Linked DNA regions of Homo sapiens. The protein of the gene in region 2 purifies or fractionates together with the protein of the main gene of each other region. This does not show direct contact. Each region holds a gene or a part of one and is shown on either strand. Other genes may lie near its edges.

Region 1 (7,026 bases), on a different chromosome or scaffold from region 2:
GTCTGTAACTAGTGGGTTTCATTATCAACAGCTTAATTTCTGTGGTCTTGCCTGATATACCATATGATTTGGGGGAAAGAACTTACAAAAATGAAGCTGTGCTGTACAATTTTGTGTATTCTAGAACTTGAGGTTTTGCAGTTTTACTATGTAGAATTATTCTTTACTGAACTGAAGTATTGTGATTTCATACTTAAGAAAGTTGAGTTGAACTGTGGTTTTTGTAAATTATTATTTGTGGCTCTTAAAAGGTGGAGGGTCTCTTTTAGAAAATCTCCTTGGCATGCTTCGTAATACTAATTTTAAGTATTTTATCTATATCTATTTTACAAAGATAGTGGAAAGTGTGATCTACCCACACACACATTTTACAATATGTTACTTAGTATTTTGTGAAGTCATATTGTCATTTCTAAAGTTTTTAATTGACGTTGTGACATTTTTTATTACCTGTTGAAAGATATTTGTTCTTTGAAACTTTTCATCCATTAGATGTTTTCGTTATCTTCATTTCAGTTGTAAATTTGGCAAATTTAGTACATAGTCTGTTGAGACTTCTCATTAAATAAATTAATTGTATTAGGTTTATGAAAGAATAATGGTAGAAAGGGAAATATTTAGCAGAAGCATTTTTTTGCTTCATTATTTTGAATTATTAAGCACTTGAAAATGAGATTATGATAATTAATGTAACATGGATATTCTAATTATACTTTTTTTTAAATCAGGAAAATGAGAACATATATGTATATAAAATAGGCTGTATGTGGAAACATTTTATGTTGAATATTATTGTCCATCTCTAACAACAATAACTTTGTTCGAAACTGTCTTATGTTGACTTGACAGAAATGAAAGTCACATGGTGTTTGGTGACCTAAGGTCTAGTTTGAAATATTTCTGTGTCTAATTAGTTGTCTACTTGTATTACTATTTATAGAAGAGACTAGAGGTAATATGGTAATGAGTAACATGAAGCAAATAAACAAGTATCTGCTACTTGAAAACTAGAAACAGGATGTGGTGCAGATGTAGAATTTTTTTCTAACAGCTTTAGTAGTGATTATACTTGAAGTCAATCTTACCAGTTACATAGCAGGCTCACTATATCTGGAATATGTCACTCTTCACATACTTTTTTCTATTTTGAAAGAAGCTGTTTATCAAAGCAGCATACTAGTTTTACCTGTAAAAGCTCTACAGAAACATTACTAGGAAAATAATGACTACATGTATGTATAGAATGTAGAATCATATAGATTATTCCATTGGCTACTGAATATCGTATTAGTTCGCTACAGCTAATGTTTGATACCAAGGTACTTAGCTGAAGATGATAATCCATTACCTAAATTGTCACTAATAGGGGCATGAATGAGAAAAAGGTACAAATTTTTGGGAAAGGGCATTTTTAAAAATCATATTTTTGCTGTAGTAATATACATTTTAATTGCACTAACCTGTTGATTTGAAATCAGTAAGAGATACTGGAACAAATATAAGACTAGGTACTAGAGATTAGTTAAAAGACTAATTGTAAATGAGAACATCAAAATATTACAGTAACAGGTAGGGAGTATTTCAGTTATTCATAAATGAAGTCATTCAAAGTATTAAAAAAACAAGCTTGAGCCAAGCAGATGCTACTGTCATAACTCTGCAATTGTTTAAGCATTTACTTTTTTACATTCTTGAAACCTGTTCTGGTATATTATGTGTCAATATTATTTTCTGAAAAGCCCATTTATTGATAAGGATATATACATATTATATCTGTTTTGAGAATAGATGTCATTAAGTAGGCAAATTACTATTAAATCCTACTAAGTGGAACTGTATGTTCTGCCTAACTTAGCTGTTTTTTTAATATGTGTTTTTAATATTGATCTATATGACTTGAAAGGAATCCTATTTCTTGAAATAGATTGTTATTTTGTGAATTTTTTGTTGAAAGCAATGTATTAGAGAATTAAATGTTTAGGCAAAGTAGGAAAATGTTAAATTAATTTCTAATGAATATACTTAGTACTATTATCATTGGTCAAAGACTTGAAAAAGTATTAGTTGCTATACAATAAGAATTTTAACTATATTAAAAACACATGTGACAATTTGACTTCAAAGTGAATATACTTAATACTATCATCACTGGCCAAGGACTTGAAAAAGTATTAGTTGCTATACAATAAGAGTTTTAAATACATTAAAAACACATACAACTATTTGACTTCAAGCAGGCATATAGTGGAAAGTCAATAGTATGTTTTTAGGGAGGAAGTGACGAATAAGAGTCTATTTTTAATCTTGCTAGTGATAGATTCCTGGCTAAGTTGAACAGGGTGTTTTTAAAAACAATCAGTAAAATAGATAAAATCTATTACTCTGTTTCTGTAAATAGGATTGAAGAATAATGAAGCATATTTGGAATTTGAAAGGTATTAAAAAAAGATCCTGAAAAAGAAAGTAGTGAAACCACAAAGGATTTCTTCCTTCACATCTGGGCAGAGAAGATAAATACCAAGGAAGAAGAAAAGATTGTTTAACCTACTTAAAAGTAATTGGGACTGTAGTCAATATGAATGGCATCTAATCTCACTTTCATTAAAAAGTTTTTTTGAGTGACCTCTCAAAAAGGAAATGTTTAATGAAGTATTGCTAGGTAGAAGTTCTATCCAGGTTCTTTAATGAATTTATAAACTAAATTGTTTTTAATAAATTAATTTTAACTAAGTAGAGCTTCTTGAAAATTTTGTGTTTAAACAACCCCAACAATTTTAACAGTAGCTTTGTCAGTATTTATACATTTCGAAAGAGTGTAATTAAATTTACCATGCTTTAAAAAGAATTCTTAATTTGAAAAATAAAGCAGCAAGGAAATGAAATATGATGAAGGAATTGTCACCATAATTTGGGGCATTCTTCTCAAACTGGAGTACATGACATTGTGTCAAGGGATACCTATAAGGCTTAGAATCTAAGCCACAGGAACAAACATAATAATTTTTTAAGTACCAATTTTACTTGATGGTATTAATTTAAATAACTTTAATATTAAGATAAGCATAAGTAAATTAGGCACAAAGTATAGAATTCATATGAGGCTTTAAGATGAAATTAGAAACTTCAAAGAAATTTCAAGTGAGCCCATTATATTTCAAGTGAGCTCCAGATCTCGTCATTCTTCTGCGTTATTGACACTTCATGGCAAAAAATTTAAGGAGCACTGAATCATAGAAAGAACACTGTAAGAACTATGTTCTCATACTATTCTGGCTAGTAAAGTTTTGTAACCTTCAGTATATTGTGTAACCCTCTCTCAGCTTTTCTTACCACTAAAATGAAGAAATCACTCTCTAAGATCACTTCAAGGCTCTCATGGCAGTATATGTTTCTATCTTTTAGCATTCTGACCAGCAGGAAAGAGAAATATAGGATATTAGACCTAGTTAATTTTTTTCTGTCTTTATAATGGGAATGATTATAGGGGAGGGTAGGTTATACATAAAAATGCAAGAGAATAAGAAATAGAATAATGATCAAAGAAGGAAAATATTTAGATTTTTTATTTAGAAATTTTTGTGACATTAATCTTTCTGTTATTAGCAATCTTACACTTAGGTTTCAGACACAGCTCAGGACTGACTTTGTCAATAAAATATTTCCTAGGAATTATTCTCTTCAATGATGTCTTTCTTTGTTTTCCTTACAACGTTTATAAATGTTGTCTATACCCTGTAATCTATATGTGGGAGGCTGCATGGTGTAGCTTAAAAAGGATAGAACTTTGGAGTCAGATAGACTTGGACTTCAGACCCTCATTTGCCCTTTATTTTGGGAAGTCATTTCACCTCTCTGAATTTCAGTTTTCTTCTCCGAAATGAAGATGGCAATATCTACTTTACAAAGTTTTCAGAACTAATAGAGGTAACGCATATGAAAATGCCTAGCATTTTCAGATGAGATACTCAGTTATTTTTGGTTCCTTCCTCTTTGTATGTTGCTTTGGGAGCAACTTGCCACAGTTTCGTGTATACATGTCTTATTCAAAGTAGATTTTAAAGTTCTTGAGATATATGGTTATGTTCTTTACTTCTTTTGTGCCCTTTTGTCATAGCATCTGTTAATGAAGTAATTGGATAGAAGGTGTTTAATAAAAAAATTGGGTGGTGTAAAATTTATATAGTACCTTAAGAAACATTTAGGTAAACCAGAACTTGGCTATTATTACTAAAAGGATAGTTTAGGGTAGATGGAGTGAAGTTGATTAGTTTTTAAAAGGTATGTTTTTCTGGTAATAGGATGATATTTATAACGATGTGTGTTTGAGATGTTTTATAGCATTAAATTTTGTATATTGTTTTAGTTGGGTGTTGTTTGTGTGAGGATAATTTTAGACTAATGAAATTTGATATCTAAAAACTAAAAATTTGAAATTATAGGTAAAAAAATTCTGAAAATGCTGTTAATGTTGATTCTGGTGATCAAAATAACACTGTTAGGAGTCAAAAGTTATGCCTCTTCTCCCACTTTCAAGATAAGCACATTTTACCACAGTTTCCTTACCTTTAAATGGGGGTAAGTGTGTTTACCTTGATGGGTTAATGTGAGAAATGAAATAATGTATTCAGTATTCAACACCTACTATGTACCAAGGCCCTGTGCTAAGTGAAGGATACAATAGTGATTAAGACAGTTCAATCTTTCTTGTCTTGAAGCATATATTCTAGCACTACTGTGAAAACATTATTCAGTCAAGTTGAATATTGACACATTCATGCTTCATTTATGTTTCAAGGAATAAGGTGCTTTTATATTTTATTTTTTAAGTAGATAACAAGTACAAGCACCAAAACTGTTTTTATGTCAAGCCATTTTTTTGATACACATTTTTTTTTTTTTGAGACGGACTCACTCTGTCGCCCAGGCTGGAATGCAGTGGTGCGATCTCAGCTTGCTGCAACCTCTGCCTCCCGGGTTCAAGTGATTCTCCTGCCTCAGCCTCCCGAGTAGCTGGGATTACAGGCGCCTGCCACCATGCCTGGCTAATTTTTTTTTTTTTTTTGTATTTTTAGTAGAGACAGAGTTTTACCATGTTGGCCAGGCTGGTTTTGGACTCCTGACCTCAAGTGATCTACCTGCCTTAGCCTCCCAAAGTGCTGGGATTACAGATGTGAGCCACCGTGCCTGGCCAGCAATTATATTTCTACATTCTATTCTGAATATCTGTTACTGTGACATGATAGTATGTTTCCATAACGTATATGCTTTTCAGGTTTTACCCACTTGCCCTTCCTCTTCCTGCCCTGCCCTTCTAATCTACTATATCCTTGGGAACCACATAAACTTGCTAAGAATTATTTGTGATATTACATCCAGTTAGATTTGAAGTGAGGGTCTAAAGGCACATATTTTCACTTTTGGGTTCAGGGCATCAGAAAATGAGTGGATATTACTATAATAAATAGCTTTATTTCTTTGTATAGTACTTCACGATTTCAGGATCATGGCTAAATGTGTCTGCCTGATGCTGTAAATGTTAATAAAAATCCACTCTATGAGTGAAAGAGATTAAGTGCAATTTGAATGCTAAGTAAAAATGAAATGTTTCTTTTAATTATTTCTTGTTCTTTTAAAAAACACATTAATGTGCACTTGAAATTAATAATCTTTAAAGTCTAATTAATGGTTAAGAACTGTTGGATATCTTATAAATAAGAAACTGAGCCAGGCACAGGGGCTCACGCCTGTAATCCCAGCACTTTGGGAGGCTGAGGCGGGCAGATCACGAAGTCAGGAGATTGAGACCATCCTGGCCAACATGGTGAAACCCCACCTCTACTAAAAATATGAAAATTAGGCAGGCATGGTGGTGTGTGCCTGTAATCCCAGCTACTCGGGAGTGAGGCAGGAGAATCACTTGAACCCCTGAGGCAGAGATTGTAGTGAGCCAAGACTGTGCCACTGTACTCCAGCCTGGCCACACAGTGAGACTCCATCTCAAAAAAAAAAAAAAAAAAAAAAAAAAGAAGAAACTGAATAGAGTAAAAATACTATTTTCAGATGTAAAAAGATGAAGGAACATTTACACGGTGGTGCCCCCCTCTTCACTTTCACCTAAGAGTCTATACAGAACATTTTGATTATAGTCTAAACTTTAAAAATTATGCTTTCATAAAATTAACATCCACATTGTAGAAGTTACGTTTGGATTAAACTGCAAGTGGGCACTACCCAAAGCAATCTACAGATTCAATGCAGTCCTATCAATGACATTCTATACCAATGACATTCTTCACAGAAATAGGGAAAAAAAAGTTAAAATTTGTATGGAACCATAAAGGACCTGGAATAGCCAAAGCAATCCTGAACAAAAAGGACAAAGCTGGAGACATCATACTATCAGACTTTAAAATATACTACAGAGTGATAGTAACCAAAACAGCATGGTACTGGTGTAAAAACAGACACATAGACCAAAGGAACAGAATCGAGAACCCAGAAATTAATCCTCATATCTACAGCCAACTGAGTTTTGAGAAAGGTCCCAGGAACATTTGCTGATGAAAGGACAGTATCTTCAAGAAATGTTTCTGGGAAAAAGGATATCCATATGCAGAAGAATGAAACTAGAGCCCCACCTCTTATTCTGTACAAAAATTAACTCAAAATGAATCAAAGACCTACATGTAAGACAGGAAACTATGGAACTGCTAGAAGAAAACATAGGGGAAATGTTTCAGGACATTGGTCTGGGAAAAAATTTTATAAATAAGACCTCAAAAGCACAGGCAAAAAAAGCAAAAATAAACAAGTGGATTATAGTAAACTAAAAAGCTTTTATACAGCAAAGGAAATAACCAACAGAATGAAAGGCAGCCTATAGAATGGGAGAAAATATTTGCAAACTGTTCATCTGACGGGGGATTAATATCTAGGATATACAAGAAACTCAAACATCTTAACAGCCAAATAAATAAATAAATAAATAAATAAATAACCCAGAAAAAAACAAAACAAAAAAAACCC
Region 2 (7,573 bases):
ACCTCGTGATCCGCCTGCCTCAGCCTCCTTAAGTGCTGGGATTTCAGGCGTGAGCCACCGCACCGGCCTGCTATTGTTAACTTTTAACAGAAACTGAGTTGCAAAGCACTTAAGCAATTTGCCTGAGTCCAGGCAGCAAGGAATTGCAAACACGGTAAGGCAGGTACAGGTACTCACCTCCTTACTGCGCTCTTTCTCCTTCCATTCTCATTATCAATGAAAAAACAGAGAGGGACAGCAGCTTGCCTGAGGTCTCACAGTAAGTAGGAGGTGGAGCAGGTTGTACAGCCCAGCCCTGCCTGCTTCCTGCCGCACTAACTGGGGGCCTGGATCTAAGGGGTAAGGAGACCCATCAGTGCTCCTGGGGGGAGATTGGAGGATCAGGGAAGCCTCCAGCCGCCCACTCGCCCGCCTTACCCTCACTGGGCCTCCGGACGAGCGAGTAGGCGGGACTGGCCACCCTGGTGCAGTCGTGGTTGATGAAGCCCACGGTGGACGGCAGGACATACAAGCCTGGCCCCGAGCCTGCAGCCCAAAGCCCTCAGGTCACCTCCTGGGCCCAGATTCCCCGAAGAAGGAGCCCTGGACCCAGCTCCTGAGCCTTAGCCTGGGTTCCCCTCTCCCTCCATGGTGAGGATTGGGGGCCCCGGGGAGCAAGAGGCTGCTGCCCGTCGGGGACAAAATGTGATGCCTGCATTGTGAGTCAGACATGAATCACAGAGGAAAAGCTGGGGACAGCAGCCCCCCTCACCCTGGGGCACAGACAGGGAGACTGGGGCCTGAGCCTCCCAGAGATACACGGTCACAGGTGGGGAAACTGAGGCCTGAGCCTCCCAGAGATACACGGTCACAGATGGGGAGACTGAGGCCCAGGCAGAGATACACGGTCACAGATGGGGAAACTGAGGCCCAGGCAGAGATACACGGTCACAGATGGGGAAACTGAGGCCTAGGCAGAGATACATGGTCACAGATGGGGAGACTGAGGCCCAGGCAGAGATACATGGTCACAGATGGGGAAACTGAGGCCCAGGCAGAGATACATGGTCACAGATGGGGAAACTGAGGCCCAGGCAGAGATACACGGTCACAGATGGGGAGACTGAGGCCCAGGCAGAGATACACGGTCACAGATCGGGAAACTGAGGCCTGAGCCTCCCAGAGATACACGGTCACAGATGGGGAGACTGAGGCCTGAGCCTCCCAGAGATACACGGTCACAGATGGGGAGACTGAGGCCTAGGCAGAGATACATGGTCACAGATGGGGAGACTGAGGCCTGAGCCTCCCAGAGATACACGGTCACAGATGGGGAAACTGAGGCCTAGGCAGAGATACATGGTCACAGATGGGGAGACTGAGGCCCAGGCAGAGATACATGGTCACAGATGGGGAAACTGAGGCCCAGGCAGAGATACACGGTCACAGGTGGGGAAACTGAGGCCCAGGCAGAGATACACGATCACAGATGGGGAGACTGAGGCCTGAGCCTCCCAGAGATACACGGTCACAGATGGGGAAACTGAGGGCCAGGCAGAGAAACACGGTCACAGATGGGGAGACTGAGGCCCAGGCAGAGATACACGGTCACAGATCGGGAAACTGAGGCCCAGGCAGAGATACACAGTCACAGATGGGGAGACTGAGGCCTGAGCCTCCCAGAGATACACGGTCACAGATGGGGAGACTGAGGCCCAGGCAGAGATACATGGTCACAGATGGGGAAACTGAGGCCCAGGCAGAGATACACGATCACAGATGGGGAGACTGAGGCCCAGGCAGAGATACACGATCACAGATGGGGAGACTGAGGCCTGAGCCTCCCAGAGATACACGGTCACAGATGGGGAAACTGAGGGCCAGGCAGAGATACACGGTCACAGATGGGGAGACTGAGGCCCAGGCAGAGATACACGGTCACAGATGGGGAAACTGAGGCCCAGGCAGAGATACACGGTCACAGATGGGGAAACTGAGGCCCAGGCAGAGATACACGGTCACAGATGGGGAAACTGAGGCCCAGGCAGAGATACACGATCACAGATGGGGAGACTGAGGCCTGAGCCTCCCAGAGATACACGGTCACAGACGCCATGTGTTGTGGCTTCTGCAGAATCTCGATGCCACAGGGATCAGGAGAGACCACAGAACCAGCCCGAGGACCTGGCTTGGGGCCTGACTCCAGCCGCTAATTGTGGGTGAGGAAACTGCGGCCCGTCCTGGGCCCTCACCGAGGCCAGCAGCTGATGTGGCTCCCAGCAGAGCCGCCTCCGCACACGCGCCCCTCGCCCTGCCCCACGTTGTCTAGGGCGCCCGTCCCTGAGGGCCACGCTGGAAATATTCCCTCCTCCCCGCGTCTCCCGCATGATCGCTGTGGCTTTGCCCACTGCTGTACCCACAGCCCCTGGAAGGGGACCCGGCTGGCAAAGCACGCAGCTTCCGTTGGACAGACACATACTCGGGGCTCACGGCAACCCCGTGTCCACACCCATCCTGCCGGAAGGAAAACTGAGGTCTGGGGAAGGGCAAGGACTTGCCTGAAACTCCTGCCTCCTGCTGGGCTCCCAGAACATTCCAGAAGCCCCAGAAGTATGGGGAGTGGAGCAGGAAAAGGTCCCACCCATCCCCCACGGCTGGCACGCACCGTTCTCCAGGGTGGCCGTCCCACAGGACTTCCTCAGGCCGGTCTCCGGAATCTGGCCCTCCGTCACTCGCCGGCCAAGGGGGGCTGTGGCCAGCCGTGGGGTGGAGTCGCAGCTGAGGGTCCCCATGGTGGGCAGGCGATGGCCCCCACAGCACCCACGGGGCCTGGTGCTACCTTCTGAGCCGCAGCAGCTCTGGCGGCCACAGGCCCAGGCACCGTCCCCACCTTCACGGCCTCACCACACCCTCCCACGACCACAGCCGCACAGACGGCCTCTTGTCCCGCAGCAGGGAGTCGTGGGGCCCTGGCCCAAGGCAGGCTGGTCGGCCGGACACTGGCCTGGAAGTGGGGCCGGGATCGAGTGTCGGCCAGGCGGCTGGATGGTCCAGGAAAGAGTCCGGTGTCAGCAGAGTGCGTCTCCCGGGAGCCGGCAGAGCTGGGCAGCTGGGGCCAGGGCCGGCCCCAGGGAACTAGACCTGCAAACATGACACCCACAGCCTTGCAGCAGGAGGGCCTGGCGGGGTCGTGGGTGGCGTGGCCCCGTTTCTACACCTGGGGAAACTGAGGCACAGCCCAAGGTCATACAGCAAGTACACAACTCTGGGAGTTTCAGCTCTGAGCCAAGAAGCATTCACTGCCTCATCCTGTCACTCATTCCTGCCAAAGCATGTACTGGGCACCTACTGTGTACCAGCCTCTGTTGGGGGTGGTGAGAACTGGACACGAACAGACGGAAAAGAAGGAGATGTTCTCAGGATGGGAGAGAGAAAGTCGTCAGTAAATGTGATAAGTGAACACAGTCTGGTGTATGAGGAGGCACTGAACGTGAGGGAAAACGCAGACAGGTTTGGGGCCCAGGGTAGCAGTGTGGGTGTGGGTGAGCCCCACGGAGAAGGTAAAACTGAACAGTCCCAAAGCAGGTGAGGAGGCAGCCGTGCAGAGGCCCTGGGGCAGCGGCGAGGACAGCGGGGAGGTGAGAGCCGTCCTCACTGCCTCCCAGATGCCTCCGAGATTTAAACCACAATGGATTTTGATACATTCAAGGCGACCACTGCGTGAGGCTCCAAGAAGAGGCTCAGAAAACTGCCAGATGAGATGCACGTTCCTGTCTCTTCCTTGTTTGTTTCTGTATTTTTTGGAGCCTTTTGCAGTGTAATTTTTTTTTTTTTTTGAGACAGAGTCTCACTCTGTCACCCAGCCTGGAGTGCGCTGGTGCGATCTCGGCTCACTGCAACCTCTGCCTCCCGGGTTTATGCGATTATCCTGCCTCAGCCTCCTGAGTAGCTGAGATTACAGGCACCCGCCACCACGCCTGACTAATTTTTATATTTTTTAGTAGAGATGGGGTTTCACCACGCCTGGCTAATTTTTTTTTTTTTTTTTTTTTTTTTTTTTTGAGACAGAGTCTTGCTCCCCCGCCCAGGCTGGAATGCAGTGGCGCGATCTCGGCTCACTGGAACCTCCGCCTCCAGGGTTCAAGAAATTCTCCTGCCTCAGCCTCTCGAGTAGCTGGGATTACAGGCATGCACCACCACGTCTAGCTAATTTTTTTGTATTTTTAGTAGCTAATTACAGGCACACTCCACCATGTCCAGCTAATTTTTTTGTATTTTTAGTAGAGACGGGGTTTCACCACGTTGGCCAGGATGGCCTCAATCTCTTGACCTTGTGATCCAACCGCCTCAGCCTCCCAAAGTGCCAGGATTACAGGTGTGAGCCACCGCGCCCAGCCAATTTTTTTGTATTTTTAGTAGAGATGGGGTTTCTCCATGTTGGCCAGGCTGGTTTCAAACTCCTGACCTCAGGTGATCCACACACCTCGGCCTCCCAAAGTGCTGGGATTACAAGCGTAAGCCACCGTGCCTGGCCTGCAGTGTCATCTTTAACAGCTTTATTGATATAATTCACATACCATACAATTATACATTTCACCCTGCAATGTAATTTTAATGTATTGCATGTTTTAAAATTTTTTAATCAAAATGGTATAGTCTACATAAAGGATCATAAAACAAGTCTTAGTACATATCAAACTTTTGAAACTTACAGAGCATATTATCTGGTGAAAAAGGAATTAAAATAGAAATCACCAACAATACGATATCCAGGATCCCCCAAATATATTTAGAAGTTAAACAACATACTTCTGAATAACCCACGCATCAAAGAAGTCATCACAAAGGAAGTTAGAAAATTTTCAAACTAAATGACTATAAAAAATCAACATATTAAACTGTGTAGGATGCAGTTAAAGAAGTACTTAGAGGGAAAATGGTTGCTTTAAATTTTTATATGAGAAAAGAAGGCTGGGCACAGCGGCTCACACCTGTAATCCCTGCACTTTGGGAAGCCAAGGCAAGCAGATTGCTTCAGCTCAGGAGTTCAAGACCAGCCCAGGCAACATGGTGAAACCCCATCTCTACAAAAAATACAAAAATCAGCCAGGAGTGGTGGTGTGTGCCTGTAATCCCAGCTACTCAGGAGGCTGAGGTGAGAGGATTGCTTGAGCCTAAGGAGGCCAAGGCTGCAGTGAGCCAAGATTGTGCCACTGCACTCCAGCCTAGGCCTAAGTTTCCACCTAAGAAGCTAGGAAAACAAGAGTAAGTATAAGGAAGATTGTAAAGATAACAGTAGAAATCCATGAAATTGAAAACTGTAGAAATAATCCCTTGGCCGGGCACTGTGGCTCATGCCTGTAATCCCAGCACTCTGGGAGGCCGAGGCGGGCGGATCACTTGAGATCAGGAGTTCGAGACCAGCCTGGCCACCATGGTGAAACCCCGTCTCTATTAAAAATAAAAAAATTAGCTGGGCACAGTGGTGCACGTCTGTAATCCCAGCCACACAGGAGGTTGAGGCAGGAGACTCGCTTGAACCCGCTTGAACCCTGGAGGTGGAGGTTGCACCACTGAGCCAGGATCACACCGCTGCACTCCAGCCTGAGTGACAGAGCGAGACTCCACGTCAAAATCAAAAAAAAGAGAAAAAAAGAACGCCTCCTCCCCATCCCAAAAAAGCTGGTCTTTATTTTTATTTTTATTTGTGTATTTATTTATTTTTGACACGGAGTCTCGCTCTGTCGCCCAGGCTGGAGTGCAGTGGCACGATCTCGGCTCACTGCGAGCTCCGCCTCCCGGGTTCACGCCATTCTCCTGCCTCAGCCTCCCGGGTAGCTGGGACTGCAGACACGCGCCACGCCACGGCACGCAGGCCCTGCACGGCCTCGTCTCCACCTCCCCCTGTCCTCTCGTCCTGCTCCTTCCCCTTTGCCGCTCTACTCTGACCATCCGGACCTGCTTTCCCTCCCTCGAGCCCCTAAGACGGTCTCCACCTCGGCCTCTGCCTGAGCTCTCTCTACCTGAGATGCCTCTGCCAGCAAACCAACCCTCGCTGGCCCCTTCCTCGGTCACGAGGGCCCCCAGCCCACAGGCCCTGTCACTGCCCAACCTTGGACACACCATTTGCTCGTTTCCAGAGGCAGCACAACTCCAGAGCCACAGCAGGGATGGGTGCCGAGGAGGGAGAGAGGAGGAAAGGCCCCAACCTCCCTCGACCAAAGCTGCTCCTTCACCAAAACCAGCCGAAGTGCAGGACCCCAGGGGCTCCCACGGCTAAAGAGACAGAGGGGACAAGGGCCTGGAAGGTGTTCCCCCAACCCCATCCCTCCTCACATCCGGGTCACCAGGTCCAGGCCACACCAGACAGCCACTAAAGGCAGACAGCCAGAGACTTGGTTCCAGCCCGGACTCGGCCCCACCTGCCTCCGTTTCCCCATTTTACGTGGGGTGGAACCAAAAGCTAACACAGGGAAGACAGGATGGGAAGCCGGCCAAGCCGACAGCATGTTGCTGGGAGGACGCTGAGGGCCGGCAGCCTCGCCAGAACGAGCTGGGGCCCCTCCAGCCACCAGTCCCCTTCTGATCTGATCGCACCAGATTCTATCAACTCTGTCTTCAGCTCAGAGCTTGTCGCAACTGCCAAGCAAAGAGCTTGCAAATGAGATGCAAATGAATTCAACACACATGCAGATGAGCCCTGATTTTAATCCTGCCTGCTCGACAGAAGAGACTAAATCACAACAGTGAAAAAAAGGGAGGCTGGACCGGATGAGAGGCCGGAGGCCGGCCCTACGTCCACCCGCCCAGCTGCCGGCTGCAGGCGAGGGACGTCACTGCCCGGCCTGGGTGTCCTGGGTGGGAGGTGACTCCGTTGGTGCTCCCGAGACCCTTGTTCTCACCGTAATTAGGAACTCAGCCAGTGTTTATTTGGGGCCAGGCCCTGCTCAGGTGCTGGGAAAACGGGAGAGGACAAAACACACAAGTTCCTCGTCCTCCCTTTCCCTTGGAGACAGGCAGGCAGATAAGTGAAACTTACGTGAGTGCAGAGGGCACGTCGCGCTATGGAGGAAACGTGGGCGAAGGGGGTGTTGGAGGCCGAAAGAGTGAGGGCCGTGATCAACTCAGTATACCACTGGGGGGCTATATGAGTAGACAGCAAACTGTTCTCGTAAATGCAGAATGTTGGCAAACTGACAAACTGCGTCTGCCGTGCAGAAGGGCTGCTGAGGGCCATCACCACCCAGGCACAAATGTTTCCTACGATTAGGCATAATTGAAGCCCGTCAGTAACAATATGAACCTGTGATCAATTAAGCAGCTGCTCAATCGTTACCTCCTCCTCTCTGCTCTTGTTACCCAATAAATACTAAGGGCTGTAGAAGCTCAGGAAGCTGCCTTTGCTCACTAGGAGCAGGGAGCCCTTTTCTTCTTCTTTTTCTCTTTTTTTTTTTTTGGGGGGGGGGGGGATGGAGTTTCACCCTTGTCGCCCAGGCTGGAGTGCAGTGGCGCCATCTCAGCTCACTGCAACCTCTGTCTCCCAGGTTCAAGTGATCCTCCTGCCTCAGCCTCTCGCGTAGCTGGGATTACAGGC
Region 3 (7,026 bases), on a different chromosome or scaffold from region 2:
ATCCATTTCACTTACCTTTTCAGAATCTGTACCTGGACACCTCCAATTGTACAGGTAATACTGCAAATTGCCATCTCCTATACCAAACTTGAGTTTTTCCAAGAATGTCTTATTTTCCATCAAATCCAGTGCATTGAATACATCAAATCCTTTCTGCCAATTTAAAAAAGATTTAAAATTTAAAACAAAGGACTAGTGTTTTCTGTATTACATATCTCAGTTTAACAATTCTACTAATAGCTCGAATATGCATTTCTAATAGGATTTAACGTCCGTGATATATAGCATAGGTTAAGAATTCAGGGCCGGATGCTGTGGCTCATGCCTATAATCCCAGCACTTTGGTAGGCTGAGGTGGGTGGATCACTTGAGGTCAGGAGTTCGAGACCAGCCTGACCAACATGGCGAAACCCCATCTCTACTAAAAATAACAAAAATAAGCCAGATGTGGTGGCGCACACCTGCAGTCCCAGCTACTCAGGAGGCTGAGGCAGGAGAACTGCTTGAGCCTGGGAGGTAGAGGTGGCAGTGAGCCGAGATTGTGCCACGGCACTCCAGCCTGAGCGACAGAGTGAGACTTTTTTTTTTTCTTTCTTTAAAAAGAGGAAGAATTCAGTTGAAAATTGTCTTATAAAACTAGCAGTGTGGCTGGATGTGGTGGCTCACGCCTGTAATCCCAGCACTTTGGGAGGCCAAGGTGGGAGGCTCACTGGAGCCCAGGAATTTGAAACCAGCCTGGGCATAGGCTGTAGGTATAGGTGTAGGTGTAGGTACAGGACATTGTCTCTACAAAAATAAAAAGATTGACTCGGCATGGTGGTGTGTGCCTGTGGACCCAGCTACACAGGAGGCTGAGGCAGGATTGCATAAGCCGAAGAGGTCGAGGCTGCAGTGAGCTGTGATTGTGCCAGTGCACTTAAACCTGAGCAACAGAGTGAGCGCCTGTCTCAAAAAACAAACAAACTATAGTGAATCCAATGAAGTCAGCATGAAAATTCAGAAACGCTGAATCCCAAAAATGTTAAAAATGTAGTATGATGGCTGTCACTGGCATAAAATTACTTATGAAGATTTCAGAAAATATTTTATTTATGTTTTATTTATTTATTTTTAAATTTTTTTGAGATGGAGTCTCACTCTGTCATCCAGGCTGGAATACAGTGGCATGATGTCGGCTCACTGCAACCTCCACCTCCCAGATTTAAGCAATTCTCCTGCCTCAAACTTCCTAGTAGCTGGCATTACAGGTGTGCACCTCCATGCCCAGCTAATTTCTTTGTATTTTTAGTAGAGACCGGGTTTCACCGTGTTGGCCAGGCTGGTCTTGAACTCCGACCTCAAGTGATCCACCTGCCTTGGCCTTCCAAAGTGCTGGGATTACAGGCATGAGCCACTGCACCCAGCCTCGTTCTTGTTTTAGAAGGGAACAGTTGTCAAGATGGTTTCATCTCCAGGATTATTAATTATTAGCCTTTCTAAGTCCTACCTTGGCTGAAGCTATTGCCCAGGGACCAAAGTTGTAAAGACTTTAAATAGTATGCAGGCCGGGCGTGGTGGCTCACGCCTGTAATCCCCGCACTTTGGGAGGCCGCAGCAGGTGGATCACCTGAGGTCAGGAGTTCGAGACCAGCCGGGTCAATATGATGAAACCCTGTCTCTACTAAAAATACAAAAATTAGCCAGGTGTGGTGGCACACACCTATAGTCCCAGCTACTCTGGAGGCTGAGACAAGAGAATCACTTGAACATGGGAAGCAGAGGTTGCAGTGAGCCGAGACTGTGCCACTGCACTCCAGCCTGGGTAACACAGCAAGACTCATCTCAAAAAAAAAAAAAAAAAAAAAAGTATAAAAAAATAGTATGTTTGCTTTGGGCTGATAATGGGAAATATATTTATGTAAAATTTTAATGGTAAAAAATTAAATTTCTTTAAAATGTCAGACAATAATACTATGCAAAATGTGATATAGAAGAAGCACTTTTTATTTTTATTTCTCAGGGTTTTTACCTTAAATAACTAATTACTGGCCATATTTGGGAAGTGTTGAAAAAAAGCAGACAATCTGAGGATGATGTTGACTTGGGGATCCAAAGGCACAGGTAAGAGATTTTTATTTTATTTTATTTTAATTAATTAATTAATTTGAGACAGGGTCTCACTCTGTGGCCCAGGCTGGAATGCAATGGTGCAATCTCGGCTCACTGCAACCGCCAACTCCCAGGTTCAAGTAATCCTCTTGCCTCAGCCTCCCGAGTAGCTGGGATTACAGGTGTGTGCTATCACACCCTGCTAATTTTTGTATTTTTAGTAGAGACAGGGTTTCACCATGTAGACTGGCTACAATTAAATTTTGAATTTCATTCCTTTAATTTTAAAATTCAGAGACTATTTGGTTGAATAAAAAAATTGCTGCTAGTTATTCACTCAACAAAAATATTCACTCATGTATTAATATTTTCCTTATATTACTTCCTAAGATATGGGCTTTATATATATATATATATATATATATATATATATATATATATATTTTTTTTTTTTTTTTTTTTTTTTTTTTTTTTTTTGAGACAGTTTCTGTCACCCAGGCTGGAGTGCAGTGGTGCAATCTCAGCTCCATTGCAACCTCTGCCTCCCAGGTTCAAGCAATTCTCCTGCCTCAGCCTCCCGAGTAGCTGGGATTACAGGCACACACCACGAAGCCTGGCTAACTTTTGTATTTTTAGTAGAGACGAGGTTTCACCATATTAACCAGGCTGGTCTTAAACTCCTAACCTCAGGTGATCCACCCATCTCGGCCTCCCAAAGTGTTGGGATTACAAGCCTGAGCCACCATGCCCAGCCTTATATATTCTTATATAAGGATTAAACATTTATAATTTGTACATTTTGTCTTTTTTGTTAAACTGCCATAAAATTAATGATGAAAATAGCCTCTAAAGTTTCAAAAGAAACTCTTATCAAAATTCTTCCTTTGACTGATGATCAATAGTTTTTTTAAAGTCTCGCATAAATTCCACCTGTGTGGAAGAAAACACAGTAAGATGTCTTCTATAGTTTGGCACAGACATTTGGAGAACCAAACGGCGTGAACAGGAAGGAGTGGCTTACCGATTTAGCCAGGATGAGCGCGTCGCTCATGAGGTCCAGCAGGGGCGTCTCTGTGTGGATGTTGTAGAATGAGTAGGCGGCTTTGAGGCTCTTGTGAGCAGGGTGGTGCATCACCGTGGAGGGGAGCGTATAGAAGCTCAGGAAATCAGTCAGTTTACCGTTGGGGCTCTAGGAGCAAAAGTGCTGTCAGACAGAGATCTCCTTGAACCAACTGCATACGTGCATTTCCACTAACTCTGTTCTCTCCCTTGCCCCAGAGAACGAAAAGCAGTAAGTCACACTTCTTTCTCGGCAGTCCAATTTGGGGCCCCTTATATTGTGCTGTGTAGAGGCCAAGAAGGGCCTGGAGTTGGGACTTCAGCCTAAGTGCCCATTGGTGATTTGCACAAAGTTCTTAGGAAGCAGAATGTCATGCCTGTAATCCCAGCACTTTGGGAGGATGAGGCGTGTGGATCATGAGGTCAGGAGTTCGAGACCAGCCTGACCAACATGGTGAAACCCCATCTCTACTAAAGATATGAAAACTTAGCCAGGTGTGGTGGCGCACACCTGTAATCCCAGCTACTTGGGAGGCTGAGGCTGGAGAATCGCTTGAACCCCAGAGGCGGAGGTTGCAGTGAGCCAAGATTGTGTCACTGCACTCCAGCCTGGGCGACAGGATGAGACTCAAAAAAAAAAAAAAAAAAAAAAAAAAGAAAGAAAGATAGAAGCAGAATGTCCTAAAAGGAAAGCTTCCCTCAGGCTGACAAATGAGTCAATTCTTTAGACTAAGGGAACAGTGATAAAAGCAGATTCATTGTTTTTGCAGAAATAAAAGCTTTAAGGATTAGAGGGCTGCCTTCTCCAACTAAAAGATACTGTGTACTATCTCACACTGTCTTAGCACACAGAAAGAATTATATCAGGCCTAAGTAAGGTTGGGTAGAGTCTGGAAGCTGTTTGGAAGAGTTCGCAAGCTTGTGAAAGGTCTTACTACTGCACCAAAATATACACATGTGAACAACTGGAGAATTTTGCAGCTATCAAAAATAAGGGATACAATGGATGACATTCATTTCATCATCACTGGCAAAGCTTCCAATACAAGAAATTAGCCAGTATTGTTCGGGTTGTTGTAATTAGCTGTGGTGGCCTTGCTGACTTTTAGAATATGATGTGTTTGAATCGTGCGGCTGAAGAGGCTGGACCACACACATGCCACTGCTAGTATTTCTTTCAGCAGAAAAGGAAATTCCAGAAGGATGTATGCTTTGGTTTTCAAAGGCTTCCGAGTCATTAGACCTTTCTTCAGCCAGCAAGAAACTAAAGGGGTTAATCTACAGTGATTCCCTACTGCTCTATATTAGCAGCTCAGTATTGGAGATGAATTCAACCTTCAGGTTTAATAAGGATTTTAGATTCTTCTAAGAATTTCTCATATCCATCTCATACGCTGAATTACTGCAGGCACCTGCAGAACCTGATTAGGTTCCCCACCCCATTTTCATCATCTGCTTTCAGAAAACTACTTCTTCACATTCATATTGCTGGTAAAATTACTGTTTCCTCTCTTGCTGTTAAAATGACCAGAGAATCACCAACTGTTGGGGAAGAGTGGGATGATCTTTCCATTGTCCCTCACACCCAATCAATTGTAAAGACTGATAAAAAACAAAACAAAACAAAACAAAACAAAAAAACCCCGCTCACAACAAAACCCACCATGGCACCATGTCTAGATGGCTTATAAGCAACTTCTAACAACTTTCAAGGAACAAGTAATCCCTATTATTACATACACTGTTCCAGAGAAAAGAGAGGACAAGCTCTTCAGCTCATTCTAACTTTGGTATCAAGACAGGACAAGGACAGGGTAAGAAGGGGAAATTAATGGCCAACCTCAGTAGTGAGTATAGAAGATCCTAAGTAAAATATTAGCAAACTAGGGCTGGGCATGGTGGCTCATGCCTGTAATCTCAGCACTTGGGGAGGCCAAAGTGGGTGGATTTTCTGAGCTCAGAAGTTCGAGACCAGCCTGGCCAACGTGGTGAAACCCCGTCTCTACTAAAATACAAAACATTAGCAGGGTGTGGTGGCATGCGCCTGTAGTTCCAGCTACACAGGAGGCTGAGCACAAGAATTGCTTGAACCCAAGAGGCGGAGGTTGCAGTGAGCAGAGATTGCACCATTGTACTCCAGCCTGGGTGACAGAGCAAGACACTGTCTCCAAAAAAAATTAAAAAAAAAAATTGGGAAACTAAATCTAAAAACAGAGGTAGTCTCACACAAATGGAAACCAAAAGAATGTGTCACTAGCAGACATACCCTGAGACTGGCTAAAGGAATTTCTTCAAATAGAAAGGAAATAATAAAAGAAGGAATCTTGAAGCATCAGGAAGGAGGGAAGAATAATAGAGTAGAAATTTGGGCTACATATAATAAATTATGCTTCTCCTCAAGCATCATTATTAATCAGTGTTACAAATCATACTTGATGATTAAAACAAAAATCATAATACTGTCTGATATTTAAGACAACAATATTTAAAAATGAAAAAGGTAAAGTGACCTAAATAAAAGTAAGGTGACTCAAAGTAATAAATGTTGTTACCAATCGACTATAAGTCACATATATATATTGTAATACTCACATCAACCATCATAAAAACTATACAAATACACCCAAAGGTACTATAAATAAAACAGTATCCTAAAATATATTCAAGTAATCCACAGCAAGGCAAGAAAAAAGAAACAGAGGAACAAGAACCAGAAGAAACATAAAGAAACCAAATAATCAAATGGTAGACTTAAGCTCTACCATACCAATAATCACCTTTTATGTAAGTGGTCTAAATACACCAATCAAAAGAAACATCAGTAGTGTGGGTAAAGAAACATGACCCAGCTATAGGCTGTTTCCAAGAAACTCACTTCAAATTCAATAACATCAATAGTTTGAAAGTAAAAGGATGGAAAAAGTCCAAACAATTTTTAAAAGCAGGTCTGGTCACAGTAATATACAATAAAGTATACTCCAGAGCAAGGAAAATTATTAGAAAGAGAGGTATTACATTATGATAAAAAGATCAATCCACTAGGGAGACACAAAGACCCTAATATACATGTGAGTATCAAACAAGAGGCCCAGAAGAAATCAAGAAAAACTGACAGTGTTGGAAGGAGAAATAGACAAATCCACAATTACAGCTGGGGACTTCCATGCCCCTCTCATCAAGTGATAGAACTGCTAGACAGAAAATCAGCATGGAAACAGAAGAGCTGAATAACTCAATTAATCAACATGATGCAATTGCCATACAAAGAACACTCCACACAACCGTAGTGGTATACACGTTTCATGCACCCATGGAATATCCATCAAGACAGTCCATATCCCGAGTAATAAAACAAACCTCAAGAGCCTTAAAATAATCAAAACCATACAGTGTGTGTTCTTTAACCATAATTGAATCAAACTAGAAATCTGTAATAGGGAGACAACAGAAAATCTCTAAACACAGCAAAATTGAACAGCACAATTCTAAGTAGGGGTGGGCTAAAGAGGAAGCCTCAAACGAAACCAAAAAATACATAGACGTGAATGACAACGAAGATACAACATACCAAAATACGTCAGAAATAGCTAAAGCAGTGCAGAGAGGGAAACTGATAGAACTAAATGCTTACTAGTAACAGGGAAAGGTCTCAAGTCAGTAAGTTCTTCCCTCAAGGAACTAGAAAAGAAGAGCAAAATAAACCCAAAGCAAGCAGACAGAAGGAAACAATAAACACGAGGGTAGAAATCAATGACACTGAAAACAGGAAGACAACAGGGAATATCCAACAAAAGTCTGGTTCTCTGGGAAACAAATCAATAAAATGATACAAGTCTACCAATATGGACAAAAACAAAGAAAGAGAAGACACGAATCACC

The links. The genes of interacting proteins can lie anywhere in the genome.
Region 1: the proteins of CIMAP1D (region 2) and GPHN purify together in Homo sapiens (affinity purification with mass spectrometry; 3 studies listed by BioGRID and IntAct, with this or other methods). This does not show direct contact.
Region 3: the proteins of CIMAP1D (region 2) and NMT2 purify together in Homo sapiens (affinity purification with mass spectrometry; 3 studies listed by BioGRID and IntAct, with this or other methods). This does not show direct contact.

Annotation. Positions count from the first base shown.
Region 1 is NC_000014.9:66,511,128-66,518,153, forward strand, and holds part of GPHN (gephyrin), read left to right. Parts: intron 1-7,026. UniProt on the Homo sapiens protein: Microtubule-associated protein involved in membrane protein-cytoskeleton interactions. It is thought to anchor the inhibitory glycine receptor (GLYR) to subsynaptic microtubules.
Region 2 is NC_000019.10:471,977-479,549, forward strand, and holds the start of CIMAP1D (protein CIMAP1D), read right to left. Parts: upstream 3,008-7,573; 5' UTR 2,772-3,007; coding exon 2,645-2,771; intron 656-2,644; exon of another isoform or gene 526-655; coding exon 418-525; intron 333-417; exon of another isoform or gene 178-332; intron 1-177.
Region 3 is NC_000010.11:15,109,687-15,116,712, forward strand, and holds part of NMT2 (glycylpeptide N-tetradecanoyltransferase 2), read right to left. Parts: intron 3,278-7,026; coding exon 3,110-3,277; intron 2,101-3,109; exon of another isoform or gene 1,842-2,100; intron 154-1,841; coding exon 16-153; intron 1-15.